5 separate regions of the Homo sapiens genome follow, and all the other regions are reported to be linked to region 5. The links are microRNA targets in miRTarBase. Many come from high-throughput screens and were not tested one by one. Region 5 holds a microRNA gene; each other region holds the end of a gene's coding sequence.

The links. Region 5 holds the annotated microRNA hsa-miR-4639-3p (UCACUCUCACCUUGCUUUGC, at 3,623-3,642, shown strand). A microRNA usually pairs through its seed, bases 2 to 8, with sites in the 3' UTR of a target mRNA and lowers its output. Matches are read on the target gene's strand: a 7mer-m8 pairs with bases 2 to 8, a 7mer-A1 pairs with bases 2 to 7 and ends in A, and an 8mer does both.
Region 1: miRTarBase lists SLC35E1 as a target of hsa-miR-4639-3p. Seed matches in the 3' UTR shown: 7mer-A1 at 3,461-3,467.
Region 2: miRTarBase lists GMCL1 as a target of hsa-miR-4639-3p. Seed matches in the 3' UTR shown: 7mer-A1 at 3,446-3,452.
Region 3: the mRNA of SKAP2 is a reported target of hsa-miR-4639-3p. Seed matches in the 3' UTR shown: 7mer-A1 at 3,417-3,423 and 7mer-m8 at 3,221-3,227.
Region 4: the mRNA of ERVMER34-1 is a reported target of hsa-miR-4639-3p. The part of its 3' UTR that is shown has no 7-base or 8-base seed match.

The regions. Positions count from the first base shown.
Region 1 is chr19:16,548,324-16,554,765 of GRCh38, forward strand. It overlaps SLC35E1 (solute carrier family 35 member E1), which reads right to left. Exons shown (of 6, transcript NM_024881.5): 6 at 1,514-5,586. The coding sequence ends at 5,356. Among named protein-coding and RNA genes, the nearest start is that of CHERP, 9.1 kb to the left of the region's middle.
Region 2 is chr2:69,877,385-69,883,826 of GRCh38, forward strand. It overlaps GMCL1 (germ cell-less 1, spermatogenesis associated), which reads left to right. Exons shown (of 14, transcript NM_178439.5): 14 at 1,525-4,000. The coding sequence ends at 1,620. Among named protein-coding and RNA genes, the nearest start is that of SNRNP27, 13 kb to the right of the region's middle.
Region 3 is chr7:26,665,279-26,671,720 of GRCh38, forward strand. It overlaps SKAP2 (src kinase associated phosphoprotein 2), which reads right to left. Exons shown (of 13, transcript NM_003930.5): 12 at 4,813-4,914; 13 at 1,790-4,378. The coding sequence ends at 4,822. Among named protein-coding and RNA genes, the nearest start is that of LINC02860, 31 kb to the left of the region's middle.
Region 4 is chr4:52,737,735-52,744,167 of GRCh38, reverse strand. It overlaps ERVMER34-1 (endogenous retrovirus group MER34 member 1, envelope), which reads left to right. Exons shown (of 3, transcript NM_001242690.2): 3 at 1-1,615. The coding sequence ends at 339. Among named protein-coding and RNA genes, the nearest start is that of ERVMER34-1, 10 kb to the left of the region's middle.
Region 5 is chr6:16,137,981-16,144,422 of GRCh38, forward strand. MIR4639 (microRNA 4639) reads left to right here and starts at 3,576; the gene lies at 3,576-3,644. It overlaps MYLIP (myosin regulatory light chain interacting protein), which reads left to right. Exons shown (of 7, transcript NM_013262.4): 3 at 3,645-3,830; 4 at 5,040-5,237; 5 at 5,719-5,883.

The DNA of each region.
Region 1 (6,442 bases), not on the chromosome of region 5:
TGCCTCCCACGTTCAAGCGATTCTCCTGCCTCAGCCTCCCAAGTAGCTGGGATTACAGGAGCGTGCCACCACGCCTGGCTAGTTTTTTGTATTTTTAGTCGAGATGGGCTTTCACTATGTTGGCCAGGCTGGTTTTGCACTCCTGACCTCAGGTGATCTGCCCACCTTGGCTTCCCAAAATATTAGGATTACAGGCGTAAGCCCTGCCACCTCCCCCTAGTCCCCCATCCCCCGGGTCTTAGCATTTCTAAGTAGCTCCCATGTGCTACTTAGTTACATACCTGTCATTTAGGCTGAGTGCTTTGAAGGTAGGAGGCTTACATATCTGTTTCCTGCTGCTTGACACAGCCAGTGCTTAGTAAATCACTAAACAAAAAGATTATGAATGAAAAGGACATGGGCAACAGTTTCAGCAGAAACTCAAACCCTTTCTGTCTGAAAGAAATCCTTTGCTGGGGATGGCTTAAGTAATGGGGAAAAATGGGTTCTGGAGCCAGATTTAAGCAGTTATGTAATCCCAGATGAGTGACTTGACCCCGTTGGGCCTCATTTTCACCTGAAAAACAAGGCTAATAAAACTCACAAAGGTATCGTGTGTGAAAAGCTCACCACTGAGCTGGGCATGTAGCAGGTACACAGTCTTGGCTGTCAATACTCAAAAATGGCTTCAGGCTGGGCACGGTGGCTCACACCTGTAATCCCAACACTATGGGAGCCAAGGCAGGTGGATCACTTGAGCCCAGGAGTTCCGGACCAGCCTGGGTAACACAGAGCCCCATCTCTAAAAATATTTTAAAAATTAGCTGGGTGTGGTAGTGTACACCTGGACCAGCTACTTGGGAGGCTGAGGCAGGGGACTGGAATGTAGGGTTTGGTGCTGCAGGAAGCTGTGGTCGTGCCACCGCAGTCCAGCTTGGGTAATAAGGTGAGACCCTGTCTCTTAAACCAAAAACATAACAGGCCAGATAGCTTGAGCCCCAGAGTTTGAGACTAGCCTGGGCAACAAGGTGAAACTCCATCTTTACAAAAAATACAAAAATTAGCCAGGTTTGGTGGCACATGCCTGTATCCCAGCTACTTGGGAGGCTGAGGCGGAAGGATCCCTTGAGTCTGGGAGGTTGTGGCTGCTGAGAGCCGGGATTGCGCCACTGTACTCCAGCCTGGGCGACAGAATGAGATCCTGTCTCAAAAAACATGAAACATACCAAAAAAAAAAAAAAAAGTTTCATAAGCACAGCTGCCACAATGTTCCTGGACTTCCCATGTTATTCCGTTCAATAAAGTCACGTCATTAATTTAGCTGTGATCCTATTTTCATTGTATCATCTAATCAATTCACAAATTGCACGTCCTTATTTTTGGCTCAGAAGAAAAAACAAAGGTTGCAGTAAATCCAGACGTGACAGCCAAGTTGGCTTGCTCTTTCTCCTCCTTCCACATTTTGTTGCTGGGCACACTGAAGACAGGGCCACTCAAAAAGAGACCCTCGCTGACAAATCGGGACCAATTTTGATTCCCTGGAAACCATCATTTATTTTTGGTAAATGCCAGTGAGGAATATACACGTCATTCCTGCAGAAAAGTCTATAGCATTTAAGTCTTGAAAACAGGTGACAATTGAAAAACATTATAATATTTTCAGGTCTTTTAATAATTCAATGCTCTGTGTCCTTCAGGCTGTGAGACCCTAAGGTATTGGGGTCTGGTAATGTCCCAGCTATAGCAAAGGGCCTGTTGGGTGACATAGGACAAATATACAGCAAAATTCAGAAACTGCAAGTGCTTCCTCACTTGAACGGATCTGGCCCCTTTGTGGTAGGGGCTTGACTGTTCCTAGAATGAATGACTTAAAATAAGGTGGTTAAAAATTCTGCAGTGAGTCTCGCCATGGTGAACAAACATGATTCAGAAATGCCTCCTTCTATAAAATGAAGGAGCTGGGTTGGAGTCAGTATTACCAGCCAGACCATACCCTGATGGGTAAAGGAAATTCTCTACCACAGAGCTCAGCAGTGAGGTGGCTGAGAGGAAGGCAGGCCTGCAGATGAAAGCGTGGGAGTGGAGCATGTGGGGCGGGCACTGTCCGGCTGGGAAAACCCAGCCTTCAAGAGGCCATTGTCAATCAGGCTGGGCACGGTGGCTCATGCCTGTCATCCTAGCACTTTGGGAGGCCAAGGTGGGCGGATCATTTGAGGCCAGGAGTTCGAGACCAGCCTGGCCAACATGGTGAAACCCTGTCTCTACTAAAAACACAAAAAATTAGCCAGCCGTGGTGGTGCATGCCTGTAATCCCAGCTACTCGGGAGGCTGAGGCACGAGAATCACCTGAACCCGGGGGATGGAGGTTGTAGTGAGCTGAGACTGCGCCACTGCACTCCAGCCTGAGCAACAAAGCAAGACTCCATCTTGGCAGGGGGCGGGGGGATGTGGACCTTCAAGTCTCAGAAATATGTGTTTGTCTTTTGATCTGCTGATTTGGTGTAACGTGATTGCCTCATTCATTCCAGTGTACGTACTTGCTGTAAATTTATATACAGAATTAAATAGCCCATTTATTAATTTATAAACCATAATAAAACCAGACAGTCATTTCCCGTCACCAGCAGATCTTGCATTGGAAAAGGAAAATAATATACAAATTTCAGCAACTTCAGAGATTTCAGGAAGCCTGAATGGAGGTCGAATTCATTTTGGAGTTCAATAATATGTTCAAAGAATCAGGTACTATATATAATCATATAGACAACTCCCGTAATATCTCCGCAGTGCAAAATTATCCCTGTTTCTTGTCATTCACCAGTGAGAAAAATCCAACTGCAGACTTGACTGCCTTCGGTGAAGGCACACGGCAAGTTCTTCTGACAAATAACACCCTTTGGGATTGACTCTTCACGTTTTACACAGCAATTGTCTCAGCTTGGGACCAAAGTATTTACAAAGCAAGCGAACAAGAGACGAAGCAAGAGGGACACTTCTGAGGCCGGTGGTGCGGAAACTCACCGCCAAACAGGGTGGGGGGCCAGTCACCTCTTCAGGAGTGTCCCATGTGTCAGCTGACATAACATCTTAAATACAGAATTCCAATTGAAAGAAAAACAAACAACAACAAAAGAAACACCAGTCAAGCATAAGTGATGTTACTTCCTCTCTGAACAGGGAAACATCTCGCTCGCTGGGAGATAAAAGGTAAATCTCTCATTTGCTGCTCTCTTCCCCTAAGTGCCAGCAAGAAGCTGGGTGTGGTGATGAAGAAAGAAGGCAGCCATCACCTAAGACCCCACAAGCCAAGCCGTGGTCCCCTCCGTGAGGGCACGGTCCTTTCATGAAGCCGTAAAAGAGACCACAGCTCGGACCTGAGCACTCAGGGTTACCTACTGGGGTCTTGTCATATTCCTTATGTTGATTTCTGCCAAGACCCAAACTGATTCCTTTTTTTTTTTTTTTTTTTTGAGACAGAGTCTCACTCTGTCACCAAGGCTGGAGTGCAGTGGTGTGATCTCAGCTCGCTGAAACCTCCACCTCCTGGGCTCAAGTGATTCTCCTGCCTCAGCCTCCCAAGTAGCTGGGATTACAGGCAGGTGCCACCATGCCTGGCTAATTTTTGTTTTAGTAGAGATGGGGTTTCACCATGTTGGCCAGGGTGGTCTCAAACTCCAGTGATCCACCCACCTCAGCCTCCCAAAGTGCTGAGATTACAGGCATGAGCCACCACGCCTGGCCCCAAACTGACTCTTGACCAAAGAATCTGATTTGGCAAACCAAATCTTAGTGCAGTGTTCGCTCCTCGTCCCCTTACCCAGAACATGATTCAGATCCTAACATAAACACAAAAACAGGTCAGGGAACCAAAACACTGTGGTCTTGTCTATTATACAAAATATTGAGATAATGTTCACGATTCATTCTGTTTTCAGCAATTGTGACAATTTTGAAGCTTCTCTCGAAGCTTCGAAACACTTCATTTCCTACTAAATACCAAAACGTGTCAGACAGGCATCACCAGTGGGAACTTGGTTTTGTTTTGTTTTTTTTTTTGAGATGGAGTCTCGCTCTGTTACCCAGGCTGGAGTGCACAATCTCGGCTCACCACAACTTCTGCCTCCCAGGTTCAAGCAATTCGCCTGCCTCAGCAGCCTGAGGAGCTGGGACTACAGGCACGCGACACCATGCCCGGCTAATTTCTGTATTTTTAGTAGAGATGGGGTTTCACTATGTTGGCCAGGCTGGTCTCGAACTCCTGACCTCGTGATCCGCCCATCTTGGCCTCCCAAAGTGCTGGGATTACAGGTGTGAGCCACTGTGCCTGGCCGGGGAACTTTGTTTTTAAACGTTTACAAACAAAAAGATTTTCGATGCATAGGCCAGTCCTAATGCATCCCATAATGGGGACCAAGGCAAAAACACACACACACAACTACAAAATATTCCCTAGAAAAATGCAAGATCCTCCGAAAATCAAGATCTCTCTACCAAACAACATACCAAGTCATCACAGAAGAGGTGAAGATGCCTCTCAAAAGACATGTGCCACAGAAATAGAGCTTGAAATACTGAACACGATTTCTCGAAGATCCTTCTCACCACCCCAAGAGAAGCGCCCTGCTCTGGTGAGGGAAGAGGAGGCAAAGGAGAAGAGAGAAGTTTCCCTTCCATCTGGATCTGGGTGGATGCCAACCCTGACGTGCAGGGCAGAGCACCAGGCTGCAGGAACTGGATGCTAATTGCAATCGCTTTTTGCTTTGGAACATTTGCCAGGAACTTGTGAACTGCTAAGGGGATGACCAGGAAACTGGATCCATCTCTGTGGCTGGGGATGTTTTGAATGATTCTCGCGGGCTCCCTGTCTGCTTGGTGACCCTGTTGGTCCTATGCGTATCTGCGCCAGGGAATTAAACTAGCCAGTCTGACGTTCTCAAGCACCGCCCTGGACACCCCCACTGCCAGTTCATGGTCTACAGCCACAGTGACCCCAGCTTTTCACACAGGTCCTGAATGTTATCTGGAATGCAGACACAAGTGCTCTGAGCTACACTGCTTGGGGAATAATTCCACATGGAAAGGTACAACGTGGCCAAGATCTCCGCAGGGACACGGCCCTCAGATGACAGACTCCAGGAAGAAAGAGCATGAGACACTGGTCTCTGTTTAGGTTTGCCCAGAGCTCACGGCCGTCTGCACTGCAGGCAACGCATCCTCCTGCGGCTCACGGGGGGCCAGGAACCCCAGGGCTTCTGATGGAGAGTTATGCACCGTCCCCTCGGCTGGGTTGTACATTCACTGATTGTCAGAAGTTTCTGATACTGCTGTGGGGGCCGGGGAAGGAGTCACCAACAGTCTGGTCCTGTCCTTTGGACTCTACACATCATAGCGGTTCAAACTGTACGAGTTTGGGTAGCTCTGCCGGCTGTATTGGAAGTGGTCTGTTAAGATGTTGTTGCGGCCGTACTGATAGTCCCCGTGCTGGGGGAAGAGGAGGCCGTTGTGGGGCTTCTCCAGTGGGCTCCGGTGACGCTCCTTGCTGCTCAGGTCTGCTGTGGTGACGGGGAGGAGGTGCTTCCTGGCTTGCTGGTTTGCATCGTACTTGGTCTGTGCCAGAAAGAGAGCAATGAGACAGGACATGCCCGGGGCATAAGAGCTCGTAATTCAAAGTCAATCAACTGGCTGGCTGCGGTGGCTCACACCTGTAATCCCAGCACTTTGGGAGGTCGAGGCGGGAGGATCACCTGAGCTCAGGAGTTTGAGACCAGCCTGGGCAACATGGCAAAACCCCGTCTCTACTAAAAATACAAAAAATTAACCGGGTGTGGTGGCGCATGCTGTAGTTCCAGCTACTCAGGCGTTCTGAGGCACAAGAATCACTTGAACCCAGGAGGCGGAGGTTGCAGTGAGCTGGGACCATACCACTGCACTCCAGCCTGGGAGACAGAGCAAGACGCTGTCTCAGAAAAAAAAAAAAAAAAAAAAAAAGTCAGTTAACCTCCGGGGCCGGCATAAGTCATAGGGCTTGAGCAAGGAAAGCAGACTTGAATGGACCAGACCACAGTGCATGGACAGACTCAGAAGACAAGTCCTTGGCCAGGCGCAGTGGCTTATGCCTGTAGTTCAAGTGCTTTGGGAGGCCTAGGCGGGAGGATCACTTGAGGCTAGGAGTTGGAGACCAGACTGGACAAAATAGAGAGACCCCATATCTACATGTGTTAAGAAACAAATGAAGAGGCCAGGTGTGGTGGCTCATGCCTGTAATCCCTACACTTTGGGAGGCCAAGGCAGGTGGATCAACTGAGGTCAGGAGTTGGAGGCTGGCCTGGCCAAGATGGTGAAACCCCATCTCTACTAAAAATACAAAAATTAGCCAGGTGTGGTAGGCGCCTGTAGTCCCAGCTACTCGGGAGGCTGAGGCAGGAGAATCGCTTGACCCCGGGAGGCGGAGGTTGCAGTAAGC
Region 2 (6,442 bases), not on the chromosome of region 5:
ACTGTATTCAAATACTAGAAGGCTAATCTTCCTCAGAGCCTTTTAGTTATGGAACAGAATCTTGATTTTTATCATCAGATATACATATCATCAAAACATTTGTCCTCAACAAATTTGGTAAATGTGCCTTCACCCAGATTATTGATATAAATTTTGACTAGTTCAGGATGTCTCAAGCATCTGAAGACCAACCATGCTTTGGCATAATTCCTCTCTGGTGACACTTGTTAGCACAGTCTAGGTGATGGCCTCCCCTGATTTTGTTCACTGATGTCTTTTTATAATACCACTTTCCCTCGTACAGAGAGAGAGATTGTGTGTTTGTGTGTGTGTGTGTGTGTGTGTGTGTGAGACATTTGTACTCTCTACCTTCTTTATTCAAATTTATCTTCTTGTTCCCTCAACACAGAAGCTGTGTCTAGTGAGTCTGCTTCAGTCACACAGATATTCTAGTTTTAGTTCCTCTTCATGCAGGAATACATGTCTCAGTAAAAAATTAAAACTTTGGATTTAAACAGTGTTTAATAGTATCTTATCCAAAATAAATAAAGTGTAACTAATGCATACTATTGCAGAGAGCATATCCCAGGCATTTAAAACGTAGGAATTCTCATTTTAGTGTTTCTTCTTTTACTCTGAGGATTGATTCTATTTACCAAATGCTTCTAGTAAAGGATATATGAGGTTCCAAACAGAGATCTGTAGCATCAGGGATGTTATATTTGTGTAGTGTCAGCTCCTGTCTCTGGGAGTTCTGAGCATTCTTGTGTGTGTTGATGTAACTGAACCTGAAATTGCTTTTCCATGATAATGTATTTTATGTTTCAGGAGACAAATTACATGTTTGTCATAGGGACAGTGGGAAATGTCAATAGTAGGAACCCTGCTTTTTGATGATGATAATGACTCCCGACCTTCATCTGGGTGATTTGCTGTACCCAACGGCCATCAGTAATTGAAGCCAAGTAGCCAGGCACAGTGGCACCTGCCTGTAGTCCCAGCTACTCAGGAGGCTGAGGCGGGAGGATGAGGCAGGAAGATCTCTTGAGCCCAGGAGTTCAAGGCCAGCTTGGGCAATATAGAAAGACCCTATCTCATTTTTAAAAATAATTAATTAATTTTGTAAAAGGAAATAAATTTTTTTAAAAATTGAAGCCCAGTGAGAAGTTTATGTATTTCTAGACATTGTATCTGTTGACAAAATATGTAAGTATTTGATAGAAATTTTTGCAATAATGAAAATAACTACCATTATTGAGTACTTAATAGATAGCTGGCTTTGCAAAACCCCCTGTGTATTATCTCTTGTAATCCTCCTTTAAGTCAGGTACTCTTACTGTCCCCATCTTACAGTGAGGAAGCTGCATTTGACAAGGTCACACAGCTAATGGGTGGGAGTTTGGAGAGTGGAGTTGTGGATCTCAGACTCAGGACACTATCTCCTTTGGTTCACTCAGTTCAACAGTTTGGTTTTTTGTTTTTATTTTATCTAATTGTCATTGAATCTACAAATCTGTCTTATAGGAACAAGTGGTGATGAACTTGGACAGCAGGCTTCTGATCTTCCCTTTATATATCTGCTGTAACTTCTTGTATATATCACCAGAAAAAAAGAATTGAAAATAATCGTCACCCAGAAAATCCAGAAAACTGAAGATTTCATCAGTTGGAAACAGTAGCACTTTGAAAACTTTTTAGGCCAGCTTTAATTTAATGGCCCTACTGATATTCACATCGAAGGTGACTAACAATGACAAAGGCCTTATGAACTGTACAGACAATACAGAAGATTATTCTTATCCTCATTGCATTTCTATGCATATGCGTAAGAACATTTTAAAGCCAAGAAAATATCTGTCAAACCATTTCTGTTAGAACGATGTCAATTCATGCTTTTAATTTAGCATCAATAGAAAATTGCTGTAGGTAAATCTCACATTTATCTGCAACAAAATATAGATTTAATTTTTAGCTTAAACTTTGTTTCTACCTTATGTTAGTGGACCTCAGTTATCCATCTGTAAATTTCTTTTTATTTGGCTAAAATAATCTAAAAGAATAATTTGGTTGGCCAATTAGAAATGCCTTTTTCAGTTGGTGTATTGAAAGCTTTCCTTTAACATTTTCACCTGCTCATTGTGATTCCTCCTTTTAGTCTAATATCTTTCCAGGTCATACTTGTTTTTAATCATTAAATATTTTCTTCCTGGTTTTGGAGACTAAGCTGATAAACTTTTTTTAAAACTTAAGCATTGTCATTGCTATTTTTTTTAATTTGACTTTCCTAGGAGTTTAAGAACAGTGAAAGTTAGCTTTGCACCTTCAAATGATCTTGAATGAGGGAAAAATCAGTTTGATTCCAAGGATATTTCTTGCCTTACATGGTCTTTTCTTTGACAGTCTGTACACCTTTATTATTAGGTTTTGAATTATTTATGTACCAGATATTATAGTTTTAAACATTTTAATATTCTCTGATCTTTAGAATTATTTATGTTCAAATTTTAGTTGGGAACTTTGTTTCCTACTTAAGCTCAGGACTTTTTACCCTCTGAATTGAGTGCCTTTGAGTGACACATGCTAATAGAAATTTCATAGTAAATGTAAATAAGGTCAGAGGATGTAATATGGAGCCTGATGATGAAGCATTAATGTAAAAATGGAACTTATTTTTGTCAAAAATGAGATGTACACTTGTCATGATTTATGTATGTTGACCTTTTGTGTTTATTACTGTTTTGAAAATAGCCATGTTCATTTTCTTTCCAGTTAGAGTAAGTACTTCTGTGGTTAATGTATATTTTTATTATGGTTTTTAAAATGGGAATCATTTTTATGTATCTGTGCAAATAATAAATGCCCATTTGGAAAAAGAGTAAGCTCTTACATAAAATGGACCAAAAAATCCCCCTTAATTGAAACCAAAATTTTTTCTTTCTAGTTAGGTTTTTTTCCCAACTCCTTTTAACTTTTGGAATTTATTAATAATTTTTTTCTTTTTTAATGATATGCCCATAGGTTCATAAATTGCTTTTGTTCTTTTAAAATTCATCCATTTGGTTTAACTTAAAGGAACCTTTTAAATGCCTCACCCTTGACCCTCAGAGCTGGAATTTAAATGTTTCTAATACAGTGATTTGGCTGTTATCAAGAGGTTACATTTCAGCTGGGTGTCAGCCAGGTGTGGTGGCTCACACTTGTAAGCCCAGCACTTTGGGAGGCCGAGGCAGGCAGATCATCTGAGGTCAGGAGTTTAAGATCAGCCATGACCAACATGGTGAAACCCCATCTCTATTAAATACACAAAATAAAAATTAGCCAGGCATGGTGGCACACGCCTGTCATCTCAGCTACTCAGGAGGCTGAGGCAGGAGAATCACTTGAACCCAGGAGGCAGAGGTTGCAGTGAGTGGAGATTGCGCCATTGCACTCCAACCTAGGCGACAGAGTGAGACTCCGTCTCAAAAAAAAAAAAAAAAAAAAAGAGGCTACTGTACTTATTTTTATATTTGACTACATTAGGTCTTTTTCACGGGAAGCTGTTGTTTTCTTTCCGTCTCATTACTGTATAAGAGTTTCCTTACCCTTTATGTATTGAAAAATATATAAATTCCAAACTTAAATTATTTGGATAATTAAGTTTTTGCAGATCTTGGAAGTAAAGATAATGTTTTGATCATATTAATGAATAAAGTTAACTGTTTCATTTCACTTACATAAGTTAACTGGCCAAATTGGATTTATATGTGGTTTCATCCATTGGTTCTGTCCTGGCCAAGTTGCTTATGTCATCCATAGACAGGATAATTCTTTCTTCAATCACAAGTAGGTTAATGTTCTTATTTGAGAAGTTGATAATTGTCAGGTAGTAATTCACACTGGTAGTAAAGATGTGCTTTTGTTTTCTTACCAAATATTTTTATGTGTTTCCAGAGTTCTTTTCAATAGAAATATTTTCAATAAAGTGTTAATAGTGTAAGATAAAGTATTGTATAAACCATGGTTTGTGAAAGCTTTGTGTTTTGTCAGCTTTTGTCTTACAGCCTCTACTATTTTTTTATGCTAGAGCTAGAAAACAATATTTAATTTTAAGAATGATTTGTGTTTGTCTATTAGTAAGGAAGAGGTCTTTAAGAGAATATGTCCTAGAGTTTCACACTAAGTTATTAAGAAGGGATATAAATACCTTTCCTTTAAAAAAAAATGGTTTGGCATGGAAACTTAGCAAGATAGGCAAAACCATGTGGAGAACAGTGGTAGTCACTGTTTTGTTTTGTTATGTTTTGTTTTTAAGGCGGAGTCTCGCTGTGTCGCCAGGCTGGAGTGCAGTGGCGCGATCTCAGCTCACTGCAACCTCTGCCTCCTGGGTTCAAGCAATTCTCCTGCCTCAGCCTCCTGAGTAGCTGGGACCACAGGTGCACACCACCACGCCCAGCTTATTTTTGTATTTTTAGTAGAGACGGGGTTTCACCATATTGGCCAGGAAGGTCTCGATCTCTTGACCACCATGTTGGCCAGGAAGGTCTCCATCTCTTGACCTCGTGATCCGCCCGCCTTGGCCTCCCAAAGTACTGGGATCACAGGCATGAGCCACTGCCCGGCCTGTTTTGTTTTGTTTTGTTTTTTTTATGAAGTGTTTCACAGCTAACATTTTATCTAATTTCAAGTCTTTCAATAGGATTACCATCATATGTGAGCAATTTTCAACATCAAATGCAAAAATAGGGTTACTGGAGGCTGGGCACAGTGGCTCACACCTGTAATCCCAGCACTTTGGGAGGCCGAGATGGGCAGATCACCTGCGGTCAGGAGTTCGAGACCAGCCTTACTAACATGGTGAAACCCCGTCTCTACTAAAAATACAAAAATTAGCTGGGCGTAGTGGCGGGCACCTGTAATCCCAGCTACTCGGGAGGCTGAAGCAGGAGAATCGCTTGAATCTGGGAGGCAGAGGTTGCAGTGAGCCGAGATCGCACCATTGCACTCCAGCCTGGGTGACAGAGTAAGACTCCATCTCAAAAAATACATTAAAAAAATAGGGTTACTGAAGATCATTGTGGCCACTTAAGTGTAAGTTAATTAAAATTTAAAGAAATTTAAAATGTACTCCCTCAGTCACACTAGCCACACTGTAAGTGCTCAGTAACTCATGTACCTGGTGGCTACCATATTGGACAGTACAGCTATAGAATATTTCTATTTCAGAAAGTTCTGATAGCTGATGTAGAATATTGGACTGGTAATGGTTATACTGTTTAAGATGAACCTGTGTAAAGAATAGAAAATAATAGAGCCAGGGGTACAAATGATAAGCATAGATGACTTGTCAATCTCCTGAAATATGTTCAACCAATATGGACCCAATCATGTTATTGGATTAAAATAATTTTTTAAAAAGGGCATGATACAAACTCTCCTCAACCAGAGAGTTTTAATTCTTCCCAAGGTCTAAGGTACACGGGTACAAAGAGCAAAAATCCTCAAAGGGCATCAATCATTATTTACTAGTGGTCAGACTGTATCTAATTATGGAGCAGAATTATTCAACAGCGTGCATTCATTTGTAAAGTATAAAAAGCTGGGCATGGTGGCTCATGCCTGTAATCTCAGCACTTTGGGGGGCCAAGGCAGGAGGATCTCTTCAGGCCAGGAGTTCTGAGACCAGGTTGGGCAGCATAGCAAGACCCCATGTCTACAAAAAATATTTTTTAAAAAAATAGCTGAAGCCTGACGCAGTGGCTCACGCCTGTAACCCCAACACTTTGGGAGGCTAAGGAGGGTGGATCACCTGAGGTCAGGAGTTTGAGACCAGCCTGGCCAACATGGTGAAACCCTGTCTCTACTAAAAATACAAAAATTAGCCGGGCATGGTGGCACGTGCCTGTCGTCCCAGCTACTCGGGAGGCTGAGGCAGGAGAATCTGTTGAACCCGAGAGGCAGAGTTTGCAGTGAGCCAAGGTCACGCCACTGCACTCCAGCTTGGGCGACAGAGTGAGACTCCATCTCAAAAAAGTAAATACATAAATATAAAAATAATAAAAATTAGCTGGGTGTAGTCCTAGCTATTCAGTAGGCTGAGGCGGAGGACTGCTTGAGCCAAGAGTTCAAGGCTGCAGTGAGCTATGATTGTGCCCGCTATACTCCAGCATGGGCAACAGAGTAAGACCTTGTCTCTTAAAAATAAACTAGAATACTTTTGTAATGGCTGGTAATTTTATAAGAACTAGGACTGGCAAAGGTTAAAAAAAAATCTAACTTCCTGGCTCAAAATAAAATTTCCTGGGTCAACAAAGACTTTGCTGTCAATCCTGTAGGTTAGATGTGCATTCCTTTTAACTAACATTTAAAATTGACCACTTTGCTCTCCTTAAAAAGGAATCTTCTCTTAAACTTCTCTGACATCACACTATTTCTATTTCTCCGGCCACTCCTTGGTCTCATT
Region 3 (6,442 bases), not on the chromosome of region 5:
ACAACACTGAACACAAGGGAAGAAAGGAAGGAAACATCTAAGGACAATGTACCACAACTCAACTTTCTTATTATTCACAATCTCACTCAATTCTGTTATAACAATAAAATCCAATCTACTTGTTGATAGTATTATGGGATATACTAACTGTATAAAGGCATTTTCTCTACCAGGTTTACTAGTCAAGCTCTTTTCTTCTTAAATCTCATGTCTTGAGATATTGTGGGGTGCCAAATCAGTTAATTAACAAATATTTACTGGATCCACACCATATAATGTGTACCATGCTGGCAATAAATAATATGTTTGTGTATAAGTAATGGTAGAACAGATTCTACTAGCAGAAACAAGAAAAAGCCCCTCAAACATAGCATTAATGAAATGTCATTCCATGCTACTGTGATCATATGATTTTTAAAGTATTTATCTCATCATAAAATAGTATGCTATCAGAGGTTCTAACAGATATTCTGGAAGAACTCAACTATAAAGCAGTAGGCGTATAATAAACTGGCTAAAGCTGAGATGTCTAGAAATCTCTTGTTCCCAATCCAGAGTATAAACTGTTGTGCATTTGAGTATATATTAAACTTGTATAATAATATTTTAACAATGTAGTACTTATTGTTTCTCTGTATTTTTGAATACTAAGTATATTACTATAAATAAGATCATATTCATCAAATGTTTTTATTTTATATATATATACAGTGTACACACACACACACACACACAAAGTATTCTTTCAACCTTTGAGTGAAGCTGTGTTTTCCATGGCTTGATCATGTTTTGATCTCCACTCTTCACCACCTCTTTCTTTACCATGTGGATTGCTTTCAATAGTCATGAACCTACTGAACTCAAGAGAAGCAAAAGTGATCTCTATATGGTGTGTGTCTATAACTCCAACAAATGAAATACAAATGACTGATTTATCTGAAATTTAGAACTTTAAAAATTCTCACAATGCTTCACTCAGTCTCACTGATGAAGTTCAAGCTCTTAAACAACATGTATATTAGGGTTAATTTTCTTCTAATGGCTGAACTGCAAATCTGAATTCATAATATCTAACTCAGTTCTATTTTAAATTATGACCCTGGATAGTACCAGTCTATGAATAAGTAGCAAGTAGTAGAGTGCAGAAATTACATGAAATTATATAAAAAGTAGAAATCATAAGAACTAAGAGTGAGCCTTTGTACACATTTAAGAAACAGTTGAATGGATGCCCTACTCTTTGTGCAAGGCTATATTCAAAGTGGTTGTGTAATGATAGCAAAAAGTGAAACAAAACAAAACATGAAACAAAAACGAAACCCCATATATATGGATTTCACCTACACATGGTTGAAAAGTGATTTCTTTTTCCCATGGTCCTATAATACTTTATGTAATTATCTGTAATTAAATTAGCACACAGTAAAAATAATCAGCTTCCAATAAAATAAAGTATTCAAAACAATTGCTGGACTAAATGACATTCTTTTTCTATGAAAGAAAGTGTCATATGCAGCAAAGTGGCAAAAATAGAACGGAGTGAGCTGTGTTAAGTGTAAATCCTAAAGCAATGAAAGTCATTTGTATTATCCTTACTTCTTTGAATAAATTCAGATGACAGCCCTATTTCATTTCTTCATTCAGTTTGGCGGCCAGATGGCATTAGAATCATTTACTTCACCTTGTTGTGCTTAATTACTACAATCAACACACTATTTTCCAAATTAATCATAACAAAGTAATTTCATTAGTAACACAGCAGGCTGTTGAATTATTAGCATCATAACAGTTTGCAAACAATTAAACTTTATTTGAACCTTAAAAATTTGCAGAGTGGAACATTATTGTAAGATCTAATGGCAATAGAGTACAAATTCAGTACAGAGCAAATAATCAAGCAAAATGCTATATAAAATATGACTTACAATCACCTTTGAAAAAAATTAGCTCTCTAACTGTTCACAGAAAAACAAATAAAAGCTAAGCAAACATAATGAGACCATAGCAATTAGCATATTTTCTAACAAGCCATGTTGTTTAAATTTATATTAATGATATTATTATGATCTTGAAGAGTATGTGATATATTGTCAAGGGTGTAAAGAAAACTCTCCCTGGTTTGTATACAAATGATTTCATCAAATGAATATAAAGCAGTCATGAATTGAAAGTAATGATTATTTGTCCTGTCACTCCAGTTTTAAGTCTTTTCTTTCCTTTCTTATGTCTCCCACCTATATTCAAGTTTTAAAAGAACAAAGGCCGGTGGAGATCTGAACAGAAATAACACCTTATTTCTGTATTGTCACTGTTCACGAGACTATCTGGCTTGGAACTGTTGGTCATCAGTTGGCAAAGGACTCCCTCTCCTGGATTAACTGTAAAAGGAGGCAGAAATCTAGATGCTTTCCATCATGGGCGAGTTTGTGCCATGGGGGAAGGGTTTCAAGAGGTTTTGTCTGCAATGAAAAGCTGCTGCCATCTACTGGCCTAGGACTAAAAACTTCTTTTCAACCCAAAGCACAAACCCAAATCCACAAAGGCTACATTGTCATGGGAAACAACGGCTTTTGCTTTTCAGCTGCTCAAGTTTTGAAAACCAGTCCACTAAAGTCGTCTTTGGTTGTCTAACTTTTGCCAAGATAATTTCAGTCTATTTCAATGGCACTATATGAGGAAAAGGTAAGAACTGCACAAATGTAACTTCTGAAAACTTTAACTTCACAATGTCTCTCTATATAAACTTGTTTACTCACAATCCCTAAAATCAAATTTCTTTTTTTTTTTCACATTTGAGATTGGATGATCATGATATTGAGGGGGTAATGGTAAAGCAGACCCTCTCAAACACTGCTTATAAACAGTTTTACACAAATAATGGAGATTTTAAAATATTACCAGCTCAGATACATGTTTAGAATCTTTATAAAGCAAAGATATTGAAAAGTTCCATAAAGATAATACCTGATAGGTAATGATTCAATATTAGGAGTTTATGTGTAGTCCAAATAATTATCTAACCAGCAATGCATTTTGACATATGTTAAGGCTACATTGGTATCTCATAGGTATTTTAAACACCTCTGATTTCAAATATACATGAAAAGGTAATTATATGATTCTACAAATCTTGCTCAGGCAGCACAGAGTATAACTCAAATGTCAGGCTAACACTACCTTTCTACTCACCTGTTGGTACATGCTACCACTGGGATTTCTACACTCTCCTCTGCAAACCCTTCCTTTCTTTTCAGTGCTCTGAGAAGTATATAGAAAAGCCTCAAATCTGCTGTTCTGCAGTGGGATGTAAATAGTATAGCAATAAGGCAAGATAAGAGAGTGCTTGGTTATGCCTTTTTACTTTGAGAATACACTGAGATTCTGTTTTTTTTTTTTTTTTTTTCTGAGATGGAGTCTCACTCTGTCGCCCAGGCTGGAGTGCAGTGGCGCGATCTTGGCTCACTGCAACCTCTGCCTACCTTGTTCAAGCAATTCTCGTGCCTTGGCCTCCCAAGTAGCTGGGACTGCAGGTGAACATTACCACACTTGGCTAATTTTTAGTAGAGACAGGGTTTCACCATGTTGGCCTGGCTGGGAGATTCTTTATACCATTTTGTTAGTGGTAGGGTGGTATTTCTTAGGAATTTTTTGTTTCATTAAATTTAAACAAAAGTACAGTAGAAAATGTTGCCAGGCCCATCATCGCACCAGGATATTTGTACGGTAAAATGCTTTGCATGAGTCATACTTCTGGTACGCACTTCTGTTGCAGGTGACAGCACACTGCCATTTGCAACTTCATCATTTTTTCTTTCTTGCGGCTGTACTTAATAGGAATTAAATGTGTGAAAATAAATAATAACAATAAAGTTATCTATAAAGTTTGAACATTCTTTAGCATTCTTTGTTTAGCAACCACATTCTTCAGCATCTACCAAAAAAAACTCGCATGATACACTAAATTTAAAATGCTATGAAATTATACATTACTCTCTAAAAATAATTGATGTCCAATGATTAAGAAACATTACAAATCACACCAGAAGTAGCAATAGTAGCATACTATGCTATAGTAGACTATATGTTACGTATAAAATAGTGATGAATTCTTCACACAAATCAAATGGGTAAATAAAAACTATAATTATTTCTTTGCAAAATAGCAACAGGTATAACTTAACTGGTTGCATCTAATTTACATTAATATCCTTCATTTAATTTCACATCAGAGGAATATTTTAATGAGCGACTGCATAAAATAACAGTCAAAGATAAGTAATGTTTAATAAAACAAGGAGAGGTTAGGAGCTGTCACTCGTGCTTTCATGACGCTTCTAAATCCAAAGCATTTGCAGACAAGCAGAAGAATTTTCCTTTTCTGCAGGAGAAAGGGAAAGCTGCATTTTAATTTTTGATTCAGCTGAAACTTGATTTTTCCTGCTTAAAAAAATTACACTTTTAGCCAAGGAAAAATGTATTTTTACTCAACATTTTGTCAATTCAACTCTTCAGAAAGGCCATAAAAAGTGGTATTTTACTGAAAAGGAGGAAGTTTGGGAAAACAGCTGGTTACTATCAAAAGAACTTTCTCTAAATAATCTATTCATTTCCAAAGTAAATTCCATAAAGTTTTTATTTTAAAAATTCTTATTTTAAAAATTAAACCAGATCAAACAAAACAAAAAAGATTTCGGGGCACAATCTTTGTGTTATCAGAAAACTCTAAAGACTTTTAAAAAGGCAAAGACTCATAACGAAGAGACCAAGAGAACATATGAGCTATTACAGAATATTGGATTAAAATGTACTTACCCAGGACTCTCAAATATCATACATCTCCATTATGTAGGCTTTAGGCACCAAGCCAATGGCTCCCTTCATTTCTCCTACCCACCAGCCATATCTATTGTATTCCTAATTGAAAACAATATGCAATATTAACCTTTAGACTGGTGTAAGTACAATGTCGTTTGTATGCAACTTCTTAGAAATGTTATTTCTATTTATAAAGTTAAAAGAGCTTGAGCTGCAAATGTAAACATTTTCATCTTTTTGTTTCTGGACACTTTAAAATGCTGTTAGGCAACGATTTAAATTAAGGTATAACACAAAGCCTGTTTATTATTGGGCACAGAACACAGAAACAATCACTCATGATGAAAACCTAGAAAATGAAACTACCTCAGGAAGCCTTCTCTCGGGGACACTCTCTCTCTCCACAGAGCCTGGGGATACCTTTCATGTGTAAGAGGCTATAGAAGGTTAAAGCCAGGATCCTTAAGCTATTATATTTGCCTTCAAGAAGCTTATCATCTAGCAAGGATAAAATAATTTTTTTTACAATAAACTACTTATTTCTTAAACTTATATGACCTAAAATGATTTAGAATGTTGATAGATGTGTGCCCCTTCTTAAGAAAATCTAATATACACACTTTAACAGATAAATTAGAGAATACGGAAACACTAATAATACCAAAAAACTGCTTAAAAAATAATTCACAAATAGGTTCCTTTAAAATAGTTTCCCTAAGGCATTTATTATTCCTTTATTATTGACCATAAACTACCTTAGATAAAGAATAGGTAGAAGGAATTTAAAGGTGCTGTTAGAGTCACCCTTATAGTGGAAGATCAATAGGAAATAAAAGTATCTCAAGGTATAAAGGCAAAATATTAATCTACCTCTAAAACAGAGTGGTCGATGAGTCACTTTTGCATTTACTTTGCAACTTGAGATAAACAAACCTATACCTCCTTTTCTCCCACTTTTTCCTCCTTTGACAGATACACCACTGCTTTAGGCATTGTGAATACTCCATAACCGGTCTCATATGTCTGCCAGATTGACTAATGTATTTTTATCTCAAATTTATTTATGTGTAGTGAGATACAAACAAAGTAAAATGAATTTCAAGTTTCAAGAATAATATCTTCCAAAAGCAATACTCTTCACAAGCATTGTAGTGCTCAAATTTAATTTTTCATATAAGATAAATTTTCAAAATCAATCCCAAAAGTAATTTAATAGGTTATGATTTTCCAGCATCTGAGTCATAGATAAATGTGCATATGTATATTGAGTTATATGTGGGGAGGGAATGTTAATACTAGTACAGACTTAATATTTGTATTGATTAGTATGCTATTGACCATCAGAAAGGAAAATTATGCAATTCTTTAATACAAATGTAGCATTACATTAGCGTGTATGTATTGATATGTAGTCTATCAATAGAGAGATTATAGGATAAAATCCATAGGCACTTTTTCAAACAGTGGGCAGTATCAGGATTAGGTTTATTGGAAGAACAAAGTGGAGGGGGAGAGGGGAGAAAAGACCACTCCTGCTATTGTTATTCTATTGAGGGCACAGCTCTGGCTTGTGAGGCAGTAAACTCAAGATTTTAAGTTTTAAACTTTTAAAGTTCATTGATAGTGT
Region 4 (6,433 bases), not on the chromosome of region 5:
GAAGAAATAAAGTCTAATATACAGCGTCTCCACGAAGCATCCGAGAACCTGAAGAATGTACCGTTACTTGATTGGCAAGGCATATTTGCAAAAGTGGGAGACTGGTTCAGATCATGGGGCTATGTGCTTTTAATTGTTCTTTTCTGCTTATTCATCTTTGTTTTAATCTATGTTCGTGTCTTTCGCAAATCTCGCAGATCCCTTAACTCCCAACCTCTGAACCTAGCCTTATCTCCACAGCAATCAGCACAGCTCCTTGTCAGTGAAACTTCATGTCAAGTTTCAAATAGGGCAATGAAGGGACTAACAACCCATCAATATGACACAAGTCTACTTTGAGAATATCTGAACAAACAGCAGCTGCAGACAAAAAGCCTTAGCTAAACTTTGATGAGTAAAGCAGGTCTTACCGAGAATTCAGCTGCCAAAACCCTCCTCTGAGTGTTCCTCTTATAAGGGCACTTAGCACTAGGACCTCCCAAGGTATTGTAAATAAGCCTTATCAGAACTTTTTGTAGTTTCATTCTGAAGCCTTAAGACACACACCATAAAGCTGATCTGTAAACCCTTACCCCTTGCTGTTCAGAGAGCTACTCTTTGTAGTGTTCTTGCATGCATATATAATAAATGTTTTTTCTATTGATCTGTTAATTTGCAAGCCCCCAAACACTGGAACTAAGTTGGGGGCAGGATAGTTTCTCCCAACAGCACTTTGTAGGCTTCTGGATAGACCAAAGAGTGTGTTTGAATAGATAAGGGAATTTTGTTCCCTTGATTTTGGTTGAAGGTAGAAGAATCCAATGTACACATACACAAAACTATGTCCTTAAATTTGTCTCAAAGAATAAATATTGGGTAGTCATCAGAATTGACTGAAAACTTACTTTAGGGAGAAAGCCACAAATAATTTAGGCTGGTATGATCTGAGCTTTCCTGATTTCCCATGGGCATTTTAGTGGTCTAATGGAATATTAGTCTGATATGCATTTTAGCCATCTTATGAAATGGGCCGCAGGTGGAAGTAGGATGCAGGGAGTGTTGAGGTGGCATCTATTATATCAAATGCTTCACTCTGCCCAGTCCTCTGGTGAGTTCCTTACATGCATCTTTCTAGTTAATCCTCTCGGTGTTCATATTTTACAGATTAATCAACTCAAAGGGTAGATAGCTTGCTAAAGATTATACTATTACTGAAAAATAGCAAGATGCAGAACAGCATACCTAGTATGTTACTCTTTTTTTTTTTTTTTTGAGGCAGAGTCTGGCCCTTTCACCCAGGCTGGAGTGCAGTGGCTCAATCTCGGCTCACTGCAACCTCTGCCCCCTTGGGTTCATGCCATTCTCCTGCCTCCCTCCTGAGTAGCTGGGACTACAGGCGCCTGCCACCACGCCTGACTAATTTTTTGTGTTTTTAGTAGAGACGGGGTTTCACCGTGTTAGCCAGGATGGTCTCAGTCTCCTGACCTCATGACCCGCCCACCTCAACCTCCCAAAGTCCTAGGATTATAGGTGTGAGCCACTGCACCCAGCCTCGTATGTTACTTTTTATTTTAAAAAAGGGGAAATGATATGTATATGTGTATGTATTTGCAAATAAAACAGGAAAAGCCATTCACAATTGAAAGTGATTCACATGTAAGAGGAATGGACTGTGAGATTCTCACCTCCTTTTTAAGGTTGCACATAAACAAATTTATGAACATAGCAGATTGATAATTTATTAACAGAATAATCATTTCAAGTTACATTAAGAAAACATGGATGGCTGGGCACGGTGGCTCACGCCTGTAATCCCAGCACTTTGGGAGGCCAAGGTGGGCAGATCACGAGGTCAAGAGATCAAGACCATCCTGGCCAACATGGTGAAACCCCATCTCTACCAAAAGTACAAAAATTAGCTGGGCATGGTGGCAGGCACCTGTAGTCCCAGCCACTCAGGAGGCTGAGGCAGGAGGATCGCTTGAACCCAGGAAGCGGAGGTTGCGGTGAGCTGAGATCGCACCACTGTATTCCAGCCTGGCAACAGAGTGAGATTCTGTGGCAAAAAAAAAAAAAAAAAAAAAAAAAAGCACAGACTGGGTGTGGTGGCTCATGCCTGTAATTCCAGCACTTTGCGAGGCTGAGGCAGGTGGATCGCTTGAGCCCAGAAGTTGGAAATCAGCCTGGGCAACCTGGTGAAACCCTGTCTCTACAAAAAATTAGCCAGGTGTGGTGGCATGTGCCTATAGTCCGAGCTACCCAGGAGGCTGAGGTGGGAGCATCACTTGAGGCTGGGAGGTCGAGGCTGCTGTGAGCCAAGATTGTGCCACTGCACTCCAGCCTGGGTGATGGGGTGAGCTTCTGTCTCAAAAAGATAAAGAAAAGAAAACTCATACTCTGGAACAATAGAACCCTTATAGATGGGTTTGTTGTTCATAGTAATGTTGATATCAAAAGAAGGTAGGCTGGGTGCAGTGGCTTATGCCTGTAATCCCAGCACTATGGGAAGCCAAGGCAGGCAGATGACCTGAGGTCAGGAGTTGGAGACCAGCCTGACCAACGAGGAGAAACCCCATCTCTACTAAAAAAAAAAAAAAAAAAAAAATACAAAATTAGCCAGGCCTGGTGGTGCATGTCTGTAATCCCAGCTACTCGGGAGGCTGAGGCAAGAGAATCACTTGAACCCACTAGGCGGAGATTGTGGTGAGCCAAGATCATGCCATTGCACTCCAGCCTAGGCAACAAGAGCGAAACTCTGTTTCAAAAAAAAACCCCAAAAAGCACAAAACACACACACACACACACACAAAAGAAGGTAATAAAAACTTTCAGCAATATAGGACACAAGAGAAAGCCTCCTTGAGCTGAAAGATATAGGACTTCCTGTGTTTGTTATGCAATATGCATTGAAACTAGAGAAGCCATTAAAAGAAATGCAACTTTCAGTATTGGGTATTTGTGGTACTTGGTTTTCTTTCTTTCTTTCTTTCTTTCTTTCTTTCTTTCTTTCTTTCTTTCTTTCTTTCTTTCTTTCCTTTCCTTTCCTTTCTTTCTCTCTCTCTCTCTTTCTTTCTTTCCTTACTTTCTTTCTTTCTCTCTCTCTTTCTCTCTTTCTCTCATTCCTTCTTTCTTTCTTTCCTTTTTTTTTGACGGAGTTTCACTCATGTTGCCCAGGCTGGAGTGCAGTGGCACAATCTCAGCTCATCGCAACCTCTGCCTGCTGGGTTCAAGTGATCCTCCTGCCTCAGCCTCCTGAGTAGCAGGGATTACAGGCACGCACCACCATGCCCACCTAATTTTTTGTATTTTTAGTACAGACAGGGTTTCTCCATGCTGGTCAGGCTGGTCTCGAACTCCCAACCTCAGGTGATCCGCCCGCCTTGGCCTCCCAAAGTGCTGGGATTACAGGTGTGAGCCACCGCACCTGGCCTGGTCCTCATTTCACAATGTCAAGTACGAATACAAAGTGAAGAGGAAATATGAAATAAAGGGGCAGTCATTGGAATGTTAGAAAATGTCTTATTAAAAGGATAAAGTTTCATCAAATAGCATGACTGATTATGAGGTGTGTTAAGCTGCACAATATTTGATTAAAGTAAGGTTTGTAGGGCATGACAAGTTATAGAAAATAGTTTCAACATTACTGGTGATGGACACAAAGGTATTTCTGATTTTCAAAACTCATAGGGGAAAAAAATCCTCTTTCCATTGTTATGCATCAGAAGGAACACAAAATAGGTTGGTTGGCAAAAACATTTATTAGCCAGCTCAAAGGTTCACCAGATGTTTCACCTTCCTATTTCCTGATACATTTATTAATTAGAAGCTTACTTAAGGAAAATTGTTATCCAATATTTTTTATCAGTGTGGACTCATGGATATATACATTGTTCTTTGGGTTGTAATCCAGTACTATCATACTGTTGCTCAAAGTGTTGCAGCTTTGGCCTTTGAGAGCTCTTGGAAAATTTGTTCCTGTTTCCTTTTGACATGCCTCTCCCTATGTGTTTTTTGTTTGTTTGGCCTTATTTTTTTTTTTTCAGCACTTCCTTACTCTCCAGCGCTCCAATATGCTGCAAGCTCATCTTTTATTTTTCCTGCCCAGCCCTAGAATCAGTGATTTTTTTTTCCCAAGAAACCATTGTTCCCTGTACTGAAAAATGGTTTTAGAAACCAAGATCTGGGCACAAGATGTGCTCATTGCTACTGCTACTAGGTTATCACTGTGTAGGCCCCCTCAGTGGACACAGCTAGGAAATGTTTGTATGTATACACAGATACCTATACATATATACCTACAGTTTATTGAAATAAACGAGTTTATACTGATATCTCCAACTCTCAGCACCACAGGATTCATTCTAGCCTCACCTTACCCCTTGCTTATTTGTAACTTTTCTGTTGCTGAGAAACCTGTCTCCTATTAGCTAAGATTTATTTGCTTATTTGTTAAACTCTACTATATGTGTAAACTAGTTACATAACATAGTTACATAATTGCTAACCTGTCCCTTTATGAGAAACAAAGTAACCAATTAGAATACAGCGTTTGCTTTTTTGTCTTTGGCTTTGCAGTATTCAGTCAAGACATCGTTTTCAAAAGTTAAATCGTCTCCTCAATTTATATATAGGTATATACACATATGTGTATATATATTCACTTCTTTAAAAGTTAACCCATCATTATTGGCATCTAGAGAATCTACATACAAAGTACAAGCAACAAGAAAATGCTAAATTCACTTAAATCATGAAAAGTAATTGGGCTAGGCTCCTCATACAATTCTAATGATAGTTACACAGATGGACTACTGAAGAACAAATACTTTTTATTCTTTTGATTGTTATCTATGACTTTATACAAGATATATGTTTTTTAATTTCTCCACAGAAAGCTTCAGAAGATGAGTATTTAAATGTAGCCATCTTAACCAGCAATCAGTACTACCACAAGGAATATTTCAGGGGTGGCAACAACCCTGTGATAATCCTGCAGCATGGGTCGATTTGCTTTCAAAACCTAGAGGTGTACAAAGTCAAAGGTGAAGAAAATGTGCATTTGCTGTTAAGAAAATATTATGATATACAGTAATTACAACTGTGAGGGAATATATGCAATAAAAATAATTGTTTGGGAGGAAATGTGGATGATTTTTTTTTCTGTTTTCCAAACGAAAGCCTTAGGACATAACACTTTTTGAGTGAGATCTTTGTGGTGACATAATAATTCTATATCTGAGTTGTGATGGTTCCATGAATTTACACATGACAAAATGACACAGAATGATGTAATATTGGCACACACAGCTCAATGTCAATTTTCTAGTTTTGTTTTTGTGCTATAGTGACTTCCACTTGGGAGAATTTGGGTGAAGGCTACGTGGAATCTCTCTGCACTGTTTTTTTTTAAATATATAATTCAGAGTAAAAAGCTTTAAAAAGTAATAGTATTTTACATCCTCAAATTAAACAGATGTGTAAATATATACATATATAGTTTATGTATGTTAAACCTAGTTGCCTTTTTTAATGAGTTTTTTTTCTGTATTAAACTATCCTTCAGAAAGGTTGAAGCAAATGTACCATGTATAATAGGATATTTAAAATTTCATTTTCATTGGCAGAGTAATTTCACAGGAAATGTATCTTAAGGAAATACTCTGCCCTTTCATACCTTCTGTCTTCCTAATAATTTCTACAAAGATATTCAAAAAACCCTTTTGCCAAATAAATGGTCTATAAACTTCTTAACACATCGTGCAGTGCCAGTCTTAATGGTTGGCCACTCCCTCTTTCCAAACACCTTCCCTGAATCACAGTGTGATGCTTAATTTTTGTGTCAACTTTACTGGGCTACAGAGCACCTAGATATTTGATTAAACAGTATTCTGAGTGTTTCTGTAGAAGTGTTTTGGGACGAAATTAACACTTAAATGGGAATACCGAGTAAAGCAGATTTATCTGCCTAATGTGAGTGGGCCTTATCCAATCAGCTGAAGGCCTAAAGAGAATAAGAGGGCTGACCCTCCCCTGAGGAAGAGAATTCTTCCTGCTTGACTGCCTGTGAATTTGACCTTTCCCCCTTGCCTTCAGCTCTTTCTGGGTCTCAAGCCTACCAGCCCTTAAACAGGAACTACACAATTGGCTCTCTTGAGTCTCCAGCAATGATTCCCAAATCTGTATCTCAAACCTGGATTTCACTACTCAACTCCAAACTCATGTCTCTTTGTACTTATCTGTCATCTCCCCTTGGATGCTGAAGAGGCATCTCAACCTTAGCATGAACAAACTTCACTTTCAGCTCCCTCCCCCAGACTTATTCTTCAGTTTTCCTTATCTCAATGAATAATGACACTATTCCACCCAGTTGCTCATGCCAAAACTCAGGTGGTCTTTCACTATTCCTTTCTTTCCCTTTTTTCCAACACATCCAATCAACCAGCAAGCTCCTTCA
Region 5 (6,442 bases):
AAAATGTGATCCATATATTGAAAATATCAGTTTTCTTAGTAACTGGGTAAAACTTAAAGAAGAGTCATGAATTAGAAGGTATAACCCGAAGAATGTTTAAAAGGTGCAGTTTGAGCTTATTTATGCTCATAGGATGTATTCATGGACATTTCCTTAAGACAGAGAAAACAGTTTTTTTCCAAAGGCTTTCTTTCTGTTTGTGATTCTAGGATGTAGCCTCTATTGAATTGAATATGTCATCTACTTTTGATCTTTAGTGCAAAAGCATTCACTGCAGGCATAACTTATTTGACCACATCTGCTTGTTTTGATATTATTGGTAACATTTTGCCTACTTTACAAAAAAAAAAAGGAGGGGGCAAAACCCAGGAGCCAGATAGTTACAATCCAGATGGTTTGAGGGGAAAATACTAAGAGAAAATACTTGATTCAAAACCACCCATAAATATTGAGCCATCACTGAAGTTCTTGTTGGAAACATGTCTCTGAGCTCTGCTATCCTCTGTCTTGGAAAGAGCCTATTAGAGTGCTGATCTTTGCTACTAGTACTCTGTTGTACTGTTCTCCTGGAGAGCATAAACTTGTCACCCAAAAGCTAGATTGTGGCTGGAGTTATTTTGATGGGATATGTCCCTTTATTGTAAAAGGCTGTAAGTCCATCTAAAAAGGAACTCTCAGACATGTTTACCCTAAAACCCCAGCTTAGGGCTGGGCACAGAGGCGGTGCAAGACAAATATTTATTGGCTTGAAATGAAAAGGTTGCTTTATAGCCATGAAACTGCAAAATGCAGGAAGGGACTATCAGAAAGCTGATGTTGACAGTAAGGAGAAGGATTTTTCATGCTTACCAGGCATCCTCTGCACTCCAGGCTAGAATGTGGAGTATGTCGAAAAGGTCAATCATCGCCCTTGCTAGATCTTTTCTTAAATTCTGGCCCATATGCTGAGAAGGATCAGTGGTGCTCTCAGGCTGCCTGCCACCTGTTTACATTCTGTTACTGCTTCTTTGCCTTTGATTTTGGCCACTGTCTCTCCGGAAGTGTAGGCATGGATAGGTTGCAAAAAGACACGGAATTGATTCAAAACTCTTCTTACTATCTAATAAAGCAGGAACTAGTCTCTAACTTTACACCTGAAAAATAAGTTAAAAGCCACTTTTGCCTGTAATCCCAGCACTTTGGGAGGCCGAGGCAGGCAGATCATGAGGTCAGGAGATTGAGACCATCCTGGCTAACACGGTGAAACCCCGTCTCTAATAAAAATACAAAAATTAGACAGGCATGGTCTAATGTAGCTATCGGGAGGCCGAGGCAGGAGAATCGCTTGAACCCAGGAGGCGGAGCTTGCAGTGAGCCCAGATCGTGCCATAGCACTCCAGCCTGGGCGACAGAGCAAGACTCCATCTCAAAAAAAAAAAAAAAGGCCACTTTTACATAAGCAGTAATTAAACTAAGAAGACTTCGTTTGTGGCAATATTCTTCAAGTCTTTCAGAGCGTAATTTCTTCTTTAACGAAAGCATAGATGCAGATTTTAGTTTCCTAACAGCACACCTCCACCCCAGTCGAATACAGAGATGGGTACATTCACCAAGATGAAGTTTATCAAATGGTCATCTAAGAAGCCTTTTGAGGCCTGCAACAGTGTAGTAAACCACGGCTTGCTGAGAATGCTGGATCTCAGTCCTCAGATAGCTATTTTACAGCAAATTATTTTCATGGTGATTCCTTTGCCCCAGTGGGGGCTCCTTTCTCAGTTTAGCAGTATGTCAGAAATACTTTAAAGATTAGCAGATGTTTGGGTTAATAAAAACCATCTTTATCTTCTTTGAGGCTATTACACATTCTTACTATGATTTCTTTACACGGGCTTTGAAAAAAAGAAAAAACTGCAGTATTTGGCAGAGTTTCATCATTTTAAATATTTCTTTATCATTATAGAATGCACAAAACATTGAATTTAAATACTTCTTAGTGAAAATAAGATTAATGGCTCTTGTCAGCCAGACATTGTAGACTCTCAGTATAGCACCTCCTTAGATTTGTAGCCTCACTGCCTCCTCCTTAGTCGATTCTTACCTTGCTCATGTTCCTCTACCTGGAATGTCAGACACAGATATATTATTAAACAGAAACAGTGCTGAGGACATCGCACCTGGCCAAAGTTACAATTCATTTGTTAATGGGACGAATAATGTGGCAATTAGCCTTGTTTGAGAGGTTATGACAAGTCATCGAAGGAAGGTTAAAACTTCACATTTGCCAGGGACACTTGTTATAACTGAGGCCAATCTGTCTACAGCAGTTTAGGTGCTCTTCAGAGTTTTGGGCAGTGTGACCAGTATCTGAATTTTACAGGAGTTTTTAAGTGTGACATAACCTTTTAGTAAATGTAGAATATAGTATTGTATACAACTAGGATGGGCTTAAACAGGATGAAACTAAGGTTGGAAGGTAAACTAATCACACATAATATGCAGTTTTATGTACATTTTTGGAGCTCTCTGATGTTCGAGGCACTTAAGAAGTCATACATAATATACATGTTATGTCAAATACTGTACCAGAGGAATAGAGGATTTGCATGTGATACAGACCAAAGGGTATCCAAGCAAGGCGACAGAAAGAATGGCCCTCAGGACAGAGGGAGCAGCAAGACCAGAGACACCAGAGCATGAACATGCTTCCTAGATTTCCCAGGGAGAGGAATCGTTCCCTATCCTGGGGCATAGCAGCTGCAGGGAATGACAGGAGACGTGGCTGGAAAGCTGGGGCCAGATGGCGGAGACTCCTCAGCTCCACGTTAACAACGTGCTCCCTTGGCAAGCCGTACAGATCCTTTGAAGGATTTTGAGCAGAGAAATGACAAGTTTATACTAGAAACAAGCAGCATGGAAGGTAGGCTGCCTGCATGGAGTCTGGAGGAGGAGAGCAGCGCAGAGAATAGTGTAAATTCTTCCTGCAAGTAGTATTGAGGAGGTACAAATGGGAGGATAGAACTGGATTTAAATAGTTTTCAGAGAGAAGAAAGTCAAGTGAAATAGGACAAAGAGTCCAAAGTCAGTCCGTGGTCTCCATTCGGAGAAAAAGGGCTTGGGAAAGAATATATGGAGTTTGGTTTTGAATGAGCCAAAATTGAGGTACCGAAGAACATCCAGGTGGTGAAGCCTATAGGAGATTGGACATTTTTCATGTGATTCTTAGGACAGAAGCTGGCACTGAGACTAGAGATTGGGGTATCATTTGAATAAAGGTGAGAATTTTGTCTTTATGTATAGAGTTCCTTAAGATTCTATCAGAATCCATGTCAAGATACAATTTTTCTGATTAAAATAATTTCTTTTAAAACACTATAATGCAGAAACTTATGTGTAATTATTTTATGTTTTGTAACCTTAATGTTACCGAACTTGTGTTAAATAAGTTTATCTTGTTTGGGTCACAACTTTTATTCCAGAGAAACGCAGTTCTTATTTTGATTTTGCCTTAATACTGATGATTTTTTTTTGAAGTTCTTTAATGTTAAGCATTTTCAGTGTGACTTTTAAAATTGCTTTCCTTAAAAGTGACTGTGAAATTGCTAAGTAGGCTGAGATTGATGTCAGGTTATCCCCAAGCATAACCTCACTCTCACCTTGCTTTGCAGGCATATCTTTTTCTTGCACATCAAGGAGGCCCTCTTGGCAGGCCACCTCTTGTGTTCCCCAGAGCAGGCAGTGGAACTCAGTGCCCTCCTGGCCCAGACCAAGTTTGGAGACTACAACCAGAACACTGCCAAGTATAACTATGAGGAGCTCTGTGCCAAGGAGCTCTCCTCTGCCACCTTGAACAGGTGAGGCTGTTGAATATAGTATTGTTTACAACTAGAATAGGCTTAAACAGGATGAAACTAAGGTTGGAAGGTAAACTAATCACACATAATATGCAGTTTTATGTACATTTTTGAGCTCTCTGATGTTCGAGGCACTTAAGAAGTCATACATAATATACATGTTATGTCAAATACTGTACCAGAGGAATAGAGGATTTGCATGTGATACAGACCAAAGGGTATCCAAGCAAGGGGACAGAAAGAATGGCCATCAGGACAGAGGGAGCAGCAAGACCAGAGACACCAGAGCATGAACATGGCAGCATCAGGGCTACTGCATATATTCATAGAGCTATCAAATGTATAAGCATTTCCAAAAGAAGATGAATCTGTGGTACATACACATAATTTGTGAAGTTAAGACTGGGCCATTGCCCAATTTAACCAAATATTTTCAAAAAATTTGTTAGCCTTTTATTTGAAAAATATGTAAACACAATATGAAATGCTATATAAAATGGGAATTTTTTAAATCTGTGCCTTTAAGTACAAATCTCCTAAAATAAAAAATCTATTATGTATATTGGTGTTTTCTTCATCCCAGCAAGAATTAAACCAGGAGATCTAACATAGGCATTTTAGTTATCTATTCCTGCATAACAAGTTACCCCAAAACTTAGTGACATAAAACAACAAAAATTGTCTCACAGTTCTGTAGGTCAGGAATCTGGCCATGTCTTGGCTGGGTCCTCTGGCTCATGAGACTGTAGTCAAGCTGCAGGTAGAACTCTGTCTCATCTGAAGGCTCGACTGAGGGTGGCCTCCATGCCAGGTTGACTCCTGTGGTTTGTTGGCCTACCTCCTTCCCTGGCCACAGGGGCCTCAGGGGTCAACTTTATACTTATAAACTATATGTGGACAAATGCATGAGACTTTCCAATATGTAAATTTGACTTATGTATATTTTTAGAGACTTTCCATAATTCTTCCAATTCATCACCCATCCAGCATCCCCAAAGTGTTTTTACCAAGTATTTAATAGTTGAGATCCCAGTGTCTTAGACGTTTTTTATAGTAAGTTCGCTAAATACATGAAACATCAGTAATACATAAGTTTTAAGTTGTTGTGATTCATCAGTGTTAGTATATTTCACTCGTGAAGACTACATAGGTTTATCTCTAAAGCTAATATCTGTATACTTAATTCTCTGTCCTCTTGGTGTCCTCCAGCATTGTTGCAAAACATAAGGAGTTGGAGGGGACCAGCCAGGCTTCAGCTGAATACCAAGTTTTGCAGATTGTGTCGGCAATGGAAAACTATGGCATAGAATGGCATTCTGTGCGGGATAGCGAAGGGCAGAAACTGCTCATTGGGGTTGGACCTGAAGGAATCTCAATTTGTAAAGATGACTTTAGCCCAATTAATAGGTAAGCCAAGACTTAACTTTTTTTGACCTAAGCATGTGTATACATCTGTAGCTGTCAATGTAATAGAAAATAGGAAGGGATTTACTCGACAGTCAGCTCTTAGGAATGAAAGATTTCATTTTGGTATGTACATTAATTTTATTCAGGCCTAAATAACCATTTTAAATGTTATTCAAGGTATACAATGTGGCAGAGTTAACGTTTTCCAAATAACCCATTCACTGCCATAAAAAACTTGTTTTCAGCTCTAGACATGCATGTGCGCACACCCAGCACTTGCTCCCATACTTCCCTCCACATATGCCCAACTGCTTTTCACTGTATCTTTACAATAAGGCAGCATTATGGTGATGTGATAACCCCAGAGGAAGCGTCTGATTTTTCTGCTAGGTCATGAGCAAATGGGGATCCCACAAAGGCACACACATGGTGAAGAATCACTCCTTCTAGATCTGCTTTCTTTTCTCTTCCTGTCTCTTAGGATAGCTTATCCTGTGGTGCAGATGGCCACCCAGTCAGGAAAGAATGTATATTTGACGGTCACCAAGGAATCTGGGAACAGCATCGTGCTCTTGTTTAAAATGATCAGCACCAGGGCGGCCAGCGGGCTCTACCGAGCGATAACAGAGACGCACGCATTCTACAGGCACGTATCTCGTGTGCTTGGTCACCTCAGCACCACAGCTCTCAGGTTTTTAGGTGACAACCAGGTTTCTACGGTTCCTTGGATTGTTGTGTCAATGAGTCTAGTACAGAATTTAAGAAATTCTGAACATTTTGTTTCCGTAGTAGCAGTGGAGTCCTTATTAATGTAGTCTTGTTTTACCCACAGAAGGTGCATGTGTGTGAGCTGCACAAACACATTCTCTGCTTACCTCCTACCGTATTCTCTTATGCCATTAATCTAGACACAAAGTGTGTTAGGAGATTTCTATGCCTATTTAATCAATACAACAACCCTAAGGGGTTATTATTACCCTAATGTTAAAGATGAGGGAACTGGGAGGATAATTATTTACTTAGTCTAGGACTCAGCTTCAAAGCCAAGTTTGATTACCCTAAAGGTAACCCTGAGGGACTGGGCCTGCTCCACTGCTCAGGAGAAGGATAGCACAGATCATCTTTTCTTTCTGGCAGAGCTGCTATCCTGAGTCGTCACTGTGTATGGAAGGATTTTTTAATAGCAATATTGATTCCCTCATTTC